2 separate regions of the Homo sapiens genome follow, and region 2 is linked to region 1. The links come from fine-mapping of genetic effects on gene expression. A gene starts in region 1. The other region holds a variant in brackets. All regions are shown on one strand. Distances are between the middles of the regions.

Region 1 (4,478 bases):
TGGTTCCCCCCTCCCCACTACATTTTTTTAAAATAGTAAAATGATCAACAAACAAATAAAACTCAGTTTTTCTCAACACTTACAAAACAGAACTGTGAATATTCCAAGATTTACAAAGCCATTGTCTGGTTGAATGGTTCAATTCAATCAAATGTTATATGCCCAATTTTCCAAACACTGTATATGTACAGCGCGAATTTTGATTAAACGCCACTGTTTGTAAAAATCTGAAGGAATATTTAAGATTCTACATGAAATTCTAGAATGAAAACGTTTTGGAAATTCAGAGGCAATCAATTGTGAAATATCTATTTTCAGCTGAAGAAATTTTCCATCCTGCAGACTGGCATGGTTGAACTGCTGTGTTGACTAGAAAAAAAATTGGCCATCAGTTTGAATTAATATTTATAAGTTCTCTTTTAAAAATGTTATGATTTCCTTTAAAAATGTAATTATAATCCACTTGAAAGTGGAGGTGTATGCCTACAATATAGCATATTGAGTAATAAGAAGATGTTATACACAGCACATTCAGAAATATCTTTGTCCTCTTAAAAACAATTCCCAGCACAGATTTAGCTTCTCCATGGAATCGGTTTGCAATCACTTCAAAATGTCCACCTCCTTCAATTTCTTTACCACTTAAAGATAATTTCATTGAAAGGCAGCAAAATATCTAACTGAACTAACAATCACCACATCTTCAAACCTCTGGAGTGAAGTAAAACCCCAATGGCAAATTCATTATTTTTAAAAATCATGGACTGACCTATTGTGATTTTAAGGTATAAAGAAACCTCTCCTAAAGCAGGTGGGTGGGCGTAAATCACTAGTTAAAAATAAATTGCAAAAGAGAAAAAACCCGTCAAGGGGTAAGTTGCTTCTCTACGGTGGGAAGCGTTAGGATGAGGCAAAGCAGGAATGGTCATTTCCCAAGGCTCTACTTTAGTGGTCAATTAGGGCGCTGGGGCTAACGCTAAGTAAACACGTTCGAATTCTTCGGAACCTCTACCTGGGTTTGGGGTCACTGAGCCACCTTAGTCTACTCAATCTTCTCGAACAAGAAAACTTGGGTGGTTGGGGTGGGGAACAATTCGTTATTCTTGCAAGATAAACCAAACCTGGCTGGGATCATCTGCCTACTTCTGAGTTTTCTCCCCAAACCCAGGCCGGGGGCTGGAAGCGGCATACAAAAGGCAGGCGACATGACCTCTCCGGGTCTACTCTCGGGCCAGGCGGAAGGTGGGAAGACCAACTCCGCTACCCCTCCCGTAGAGGGCCCGCTTCCGGGCGGGGGGCAAGGAGCCCCCAAGGCGAAGTCCCCTCAGGAAGTAACCCCAGCTCCGCAGCTAGGACGCAATCGGGAACCAGCCCACTCCTGCTGACTGACGCCAAGGGAGAGTTCGGGACGGGAGCGGCTCCCTCCCAGATCTGTAGCCGGCTGGGGCTCGCGGGGGGCTCCCTTCCCGGGGAACGCGCTCCCTTCTCATCTCCCAGACCTCGGCCGGGGGGAGAGGGAGGCAGGAGTTCTGCGGGGGCCTCACCAGGCGGAGCTGGCTAATTTCGTCGTAGGACATAAAGCTGAGGATGTTCTCGATGGCTACGATGGGCAGCGCCACAAGCGTGTTGTTTTGAGGCAGCTGGTCCGGAGCCAGCGCGGGGGCTGGGAGCGCCTGGGACCCCGGCTGCGGGTGCTGTGGCGCGGGCGGTGGAGGCTGTCGCTGGGTAGAGCCGGAGGCCAAAGAGGAACCGCCGTCGCCTTGGCCGCCGCCTCCTTCCTCTGCCATCCGCTCCTCCGCCGCTGCCGCCATCTTGGGGGCTTGATTCCTTACCCCCACAGCAAGGGGAACAGGGACACTTCCGGTGCGTCACTTCCTCCTCCTGCAGCCGCCGGGGAAGGGGTACCTGGAGGAGTGGGGAGGAGCCTGTGGGATAACAGGCGGAGAGAGACTCACAGGGTGCCTTTCAAGTGGAAGTCAGGGAAGATCATGTAAACCTCAAGAAAGGTGGTCATCCTAGACCCTTTTGTCTAAGATTAGTAACTACTTGAGAGCAAGGAAACCCTATTTATTAAAATGAACTTCACTGTGCAGTTTTCTTAAAGGGCTTCCTGACAATGGATGATAAAGATGTTGCCTAGTAAGTGTAGATGGAAATAATGTAGTTAGACTAGCACCATTTTTTAGGAATCATAGAAATGATTGATTTAGGCAAATAAAAAGGTATGAAATATCAATAAGAACTACAACATGAATGAACCGTGAGAACATATTAAGTGAAATAAGTTAGACACAAAGGACCACATATTGTATGATTGCATTTATATAGGATGTCTTAAATAGGCAAATCCATAGAGATAAAAAGTAGATTAGTGGTCGCCAGAGGCTGGGGGAAATGGGGAAATGAGTGCTAATGGGTGAAGGGTTTCATTTTCGGGGTGATAAAAATGCTCTGGAATTAGCGGTGATGGTTACACAACCGTATGAATATACAAAAACCACTGAATTACTATATACTTTAATGAATTTTATCATATATGAATTGTATTCTAATAACTGATTTAGGCAAGAATCATCAAAAGGTACTAAAACTAGGAGGTAAACGTGATGAGGAACATGATATTTCCATAGTCTCAAAATAACTCCCCATAAATTATGTATTATTTACAAAGATGAAAAGAAATAGTTTACAAGGCTGGGCGTGTTGACTCACGCCTGTAATCCAGCACTTTGGAAGGCTGAAGCGGGAGAATCACTTTAGCCCAGAAGTTGGAGACCAGCCTGGGCAACGTGGAGAAACCCCATCTCTACAAAAAATACAAAAAATTAGCCAAATGTGGTGGCTAGGTCCTATGGTCCTAGCTACTCGTGAGGCTGAGATGGGAGGATTGCTTGAGCCACACGAGTTCGAGGCTGCAGCGAACCGTCAGCCTGCCACTGCACTCCAGCCTGGGCAACAGAGCGAGAAAAAAAAAAAAAGTTTACAATAGAGAAATTTGGTGGACACCATCATAACCAAATGATCAAGACTAACGCCACAGTTATAGGAGGAGCCAATATCATATGCCTATTAATATAATACCCTGAAAAGGACGCAGCATAATGTAGTATTCATGCAAAAAAAGCACGAGTTGCGTTTGAGGTAGACATCGCTAGATGACGGGCCCATAAATTATTCAAAAGTGTTAACGTTACAAAAGACAAAGACTAAGGGTTTGTGGCAGATTAAAGGATACTAAAGAGACAGGGCAACTAAATCTATGGGTGATCCTGGATGGGATCCTGGATTAAGGAAGAAATAACTATGAAGAACGTTATTGTGACAACTGGCAAAATTTAAAAATGGACAGTATATTAGATTATACTGTAATCATATTAAATTTTTCGATTTGGGTAATTGTATTATGGTCATATAAGACAATGTCTTTGTCTTTAGGAAATACACATTGAAGGATAAGCATGCTTCTATTATTTTCCTTTATTTATTTATTTATTTTTTTGAGATGGAGTCTTGCTCTGTCACCCAGGCTAGAGTGCAGTGGTGCGATGTCAGCTGGTTCGAGCAATTCTCCTGCCTCAGCCTCCTGAGTAGCTGGGATTACAGGCGCCCACCATCACGTCTGGCTAATTTTTGTATTTTTAGTAGAGACGGGATTTCACCATCTTGGCCAGGCTGCTCTCGAACTCCTGACCTTGTGATCCACCCACCTCAGCCTCCCAAAGTGCTGGGATTACAGGCAGCAATGGCGCCCGGCCGCATGCTTTGTATTTTACACTTTGCTTTCTTGTGCTTCTCAGATATTGCGTTTTTAAAAATGAATTGAAGGTTTGTGGCAACCCTTGAGCAAGTCTCTTGGTGCCATTTTTCCAACAGCATGTGTTCACCTTGTTTCTTTCTGTCACATTTTGATAATTCCTCTGATATTTAAAACTTTTTATTATTGTTATATCTGTTATGGTGAGCTGTGATCAGTAATTTTTTTTGTTTATTGAGGCAGCATCTTGCTCTGTTGCCCAGACTGGAGTGCAATGACAGGATGATGGCTCACTGTAGCCTCCACCGCCTGGGTTCAAGCAATCCCCCAACCTTGGCCTCCTGAGTAGCTGGGACTACAGGTGTGTGCCACCACACCTGGATAATTTTTGATTTTTTTTTGTAGAAACAGGGTTTTGCCACGTTGCCCAGGCTGGCCTTGAACTCTTGTGCTCAAGCAGTCTGCCTGCTTTGGCCTCCCAAAGTGTTGAGATTACGAGAGTGAGCCACCATGCCTGGCAGATCAGTAATCTTTATGTTACTATTGTAATTGTTTTGAGGTGCCACCAATCATACCCATATAAGACGGCAAATTTAATCAATACATGTAGGTGTTCTGACTGGCTGCTGTTTCCCCATCTCTCTTCTTCTCCTGCAGCTATGGTGGAAATAGCAAGAGAACTGGAATTAGAAGTGAAGCCTGAAGATGTGACTAAATTGTTGCT
Region 2 (4,000 bases), 22 kb before region 1:
CCCAGCTAATTTTTGTATTTTTAGTAGAGATGGGGTTTCACCATGTTGGCCAGGATGGTCTCGATCTCTTGACCTTGTGATCTACCCGTCTTGGCCTCCCAAAGTGCTGCGATTACAGGCGTGAGCCACCGTGCCCAGTCCCAACTATTACTTTAAAGGTCCAAAATTTTGGTACATATTTGGCTATCTAATTTGAACTATAATGTTGCTACTACTCAGATTCACTTAAGTGAATAAAATGCTTACTGTAGACCTTAAGTTTGACAAAATGAATGTAGTCTATATAAAACCACAAAAGTTAGTTTTCTTAACAAAGTATAAAAGCTTCTGTGGCTAGGCACAGTGGTTCACACCTGTAATCCCAGCACTTTGGGAGGCCAAGGCAGGCGGATCACTTGAGATCAGGAGTTTGAGGCCAGCCTGGCCAACATGGTGAAACCTCGTCTCTACTAAAAATACAAAAATTACCTGGCTGTGGTGGTGTGCACCTGTAGTCTCAGCTACTTGGGAGGCTGAGGCATGAGAATCGCCTAAACCTGGGTGGCAGAGGTTGCGGTGAGCCAAGATTGCACCAATGGACTCCAGCCTGGGCGACAGAACGAGACCCCATCTCAAAAACAAAAACAAAAAGACTTCTGAACTTTTTTTTTTTCTGGAGACAAAGTCTTGCTCTGTCGCCCAGGCTGGAGTGCAGTGGCACGATCTTGGCTCACTGCAAGCTCTGCCTCCCAGGTTCATGCCATTCTCCTGCCTCAGCCTCCCGAGTAGCTGGGACTATAGGCGCCCGCCACCATGCCCAGCTAGTTTTTTTTTTTGTATTTTTAGTAGAGATGGGGTTTCACCATGTTAGCAAGGATGGTCTGGACCTCCTGACCTTGTGATCCGCCCACCTTGGCCTCCTAAAGTGCTGGGATTACAGGTGTGAGCTACCGCGCCCGGCCTAAACTTTTAAGTACATCCCAGAAGCAAGATCTCAGGGAAAACAAGAACAACTTATCATAAACACCATATATTAAATGAAGATTATATGTTAGACTGAAAATTATTTTGTATAATGTTCTTACTTCAGCATGTGGAAATTAAATGCCGCATCCTTATATTTTGCAGACAGGATGTGAAAAGTTTAAGCATGAGAAGTACAAAAAAGGGAACACTCATAAAACAATCCAAATAATGCACCTGTACCGGGAGGCAGAGGTTGCTGTTAGCTGAGATTGCCCCACTGCACTCCAGCCTGGGTGACACAGCACGACACCATCTCAAAAAAAAAAAAAAAAAAAACTGAAGTCAACAAATGGTTTCCAAAAATGACAGGACTCCAGTGGATTTAACATTATTTGTTTGTTTTTGAGATAGAGTCTTGCTTTGTCGCCAGGCTGGAGTGCAGTGGCATGATCTCGGCTCACTGCAACCTCTGACTGCCTGGTTCAAGTGACTCTCCTGCCTGAGACTCCCGAGTAGCTGGGATTACAGGCACATGCCACCATGCCCAGCTAATTTTCGTATTTTTAGTAGAGACAGGGTTTCCCCATGTTCGCCAGGCTGGTCTTGATCTCCTGACCTTGTGATCTGCCCGTCTCGGCCTCCCAAAGTGTGGGGATTACAGGTGTGAGCCACGGCACCTGGCAACATTATTTGTTTAGACTGTCAACATCACCATTCCAAACACGTGAGCCTGATCAACTAGCACAGAAATTGGTGACTTCTTCTGTACAGGCCAGATACTAAATTTTTCTTTTTCTTTTTCTTTTTTTTTT[T/CT]TTTTTTTTTTTTTGAGACAGAGTCTTGCTCTGTTGCCCAGGCTGGAGTGCAGTGGTGTGATCTTGGCTCAGTGCAACCTCCGCCTCCCGGGTTCAAGCGATTCTTCTGCCTCAGCCTTGCAAGTATCTGGGATTAGAGGTGCGAGCCACTACAGCCGGCCTGGATCATAAATATTTTAATCTTTGTAGGCCACATGAACTCTGTCACAAACTATTCAACTCTGTTACTTAACAACTGACTGAATCTCTTTGAAGTTATGATAACTGTGAGATGTTTCTTAGATATTCATGTTTCTAACAATGAGATATTCAATAAAAACTATGATGCTATATGAAACAAGCTAAGTTCAAAGAACTCAGGAACACTTAAAAGTTAAGGCCTTTAAGTCAGATTCAGAAAAATCTGGCATAAGAATCACTCTGAAGTTTCTAACTGGTCATCCTCTTATAGCACCCTACAAAAAGCATTAGCAGGTAATGTGTTGGTATGCAACAAGATCTTTTAAAGAAAATGTATATAATGCAAAGAAAGTGAGATATACCAAAATATTTCAAATACAATCATAAGAAATGGGATTCCCCCCAAAAATAAATGTCAAAGAAAACTAAAAATGGACAAAGTACGTATTAAATATTGCCAATGTAAATTATCTTTGGAAATAACAAAAAGCGAACATTCAGATTTTACTAGATATTAATTATTTCCAACCATGTTAAGGGAAACTTTTGCCAGCATCAACCAAGTAGCAAAATGACCTTTAATTATATCTCTACCACTTCCATATAAAAAGATACAGACATATGTCAATTTACACTTAATTCAAGGAGTAGGGTACTACTGAAGGTATAAGTAGTATGTTGAATGTTGGAGTTTTTATTAACTTAGTAATGGTAAATATGCCACAATATAGTTATTTCTGTGTTAAAAAGGACTGTTATTTAGTTCTGGGAATATTGGTAAATAGCAATTGTTTATTCTTGTCAAATCAGAAAGTTTATAAAGTTGTCGTTATGAAACATTTCTCAAACAAAACAAAAACCAGCTTGTCCCTCCTTTTCTACCTCCCCAAAATTATAATAGTCTTGAAGGCAGGGACAATATGTATGTTGTTCATTGCTGTATCTCTGGCATCATAACCACCAGTAAAACCTCAAATTTTATTCTTGAGTATGAACTCTTAAAAAACTTCTCTAAAGAATATTAGGGTTTCGACTATTTCATAATTAGAATTTTAAATATAAAGATCATACAAATGATACATATTTATAACTGTACAGAAAGCAAACAAATTCATTAGTAGAAACTCAGAGAAGTAGAAACAATTCTAACATTTCTAAAATCAGAAATTCATAACTGTATAATAAGTTTATGTAGGGCAGTCCAGCTGTTCTAGGCAAGCAATTCTATTTTACCTTTCCTGGGATGAAGCAACAGAGATTGGAATCCACATATTTCATGAAAGTCATATTTAATAGTGACAGCCTTGTTTCAACAGCAGCAAGAATGTCTGCATGACGAGCTAATGAATGGTTTCTCCTTTCTGACTCTCTCCTATAATAATAATAATAATAAAAGCAAGGCAACCATTAAAGCAGTATTGTGGACTAAAATATTAAGCAATCAAGATGGCTTAATGAAACAGTCTTTTACATGTTAATTTAGAAATCTACAGTTGGGTCATAATTTAACTGTAATGATGAATGAATCACTATGCCTAGAAATCGTTACCAAAGACTGGTACTCATTGACAAAATATTTGAAAACAAACAAAACAAATTATATATATATATATATATTTTAATTAGGTTTTTTGGGGCCGGGCTTGGAGGCTCACGCCTGTAATCCCAGCACTTTAGGAGGCTGAGGCGGGTGGATCACCTGAGGTCAGGAGTTTGAGACCAGGCTGGGCAACATGGTGAAACCCCGTCTCTACTAAAAAATTAGCCAGGCGTGATGGTGCATGCCTATAGTCCCAGCTACTAGGGAGGCTGAGGCAGGAGACTCGCTTGAACCCGGGCGTCGGAGGTTGCAGTGAACCAAGACTGCACCACTTGCACTCCAGCCTGGGTGATAGAGCAAGACTCCATCTCAAAAATAAAAATAAAAGTAAAGGTTTTTTGGCTATCAAATCTAGTGGCTATTAGAACCAAAGAAATTAGATAAATGAATGGATTACACATGGAAATATAGGCAGGAGATGATATGCTTTTGATGATAAAATTTAACTCCTTTAAACTTTTTA

Direction of the effects. Positions count from the first base shown, and alleles are read on the strand shown. Sizes are in standard deviations (SD) of each study's normalised expression.
For the expression in monocytes after triphosphate RNA of the gene that starts at base 1,830 in region 1, T is the high allele of the variant in region 2 and CT is the other (large effect, 0.86 SD a copy in Kim-Hellmuth 2017).

The links. PIP is the estimated chance that this variant, and not a neighbour inherited with it, causes the effect.
Region 2: its variant is the best candidate, but not a certain one, in a credible set for the expression of FBXO28 in monocytes after triphosphate RNA (Kim-Hellmuth 2017, PIP 0.75).

The regions. Positions count from the first base shown.
Region 1 is chr1:224,111,463-224,115,940 of GRCh38, reverse strand. It overlaps FBXO28 (F-box protein 28), which reads right to left and starts at 1,830. Exons shown (of 5, transcript NM_015176.4): 1 at 1,545-1,830. The coding sequence starts at 1,811. LOC105373056 (a long non-coding RNA gene) reads left to right here and starts at 1,901. Exons shown (of 3, transcript XR_007066897.1): 1 at 1,901-2,006; 2 at 4,412-4,478. RefSeq lists enhancers at 1,768-1,837, 1,978-2,037, 2,058-2,187.
Region 2 is chr1:224,133,383-224,137,382 of GRCh38, reverse strand. It overlaps FBXO28 (F-box protein 28), which reads right to left. Exons shown (of 5, transcript NM_015176.4): 3 at 3,171-3,309. It overlaps LOC124903813 (UPF0764 protein C16orf89-like), which reads left to right. Exons shown (of 3, transcript XM_047436340.1): 3 at 1,070-1,174. The coding sequence ends at 1,174. Among named protein-coding and RNA genes, the nearest start is that of FBXO28, 21 kb to the right of the region's middle. The variant T/CT (reference allele first, on the strand shown) is at 1,758.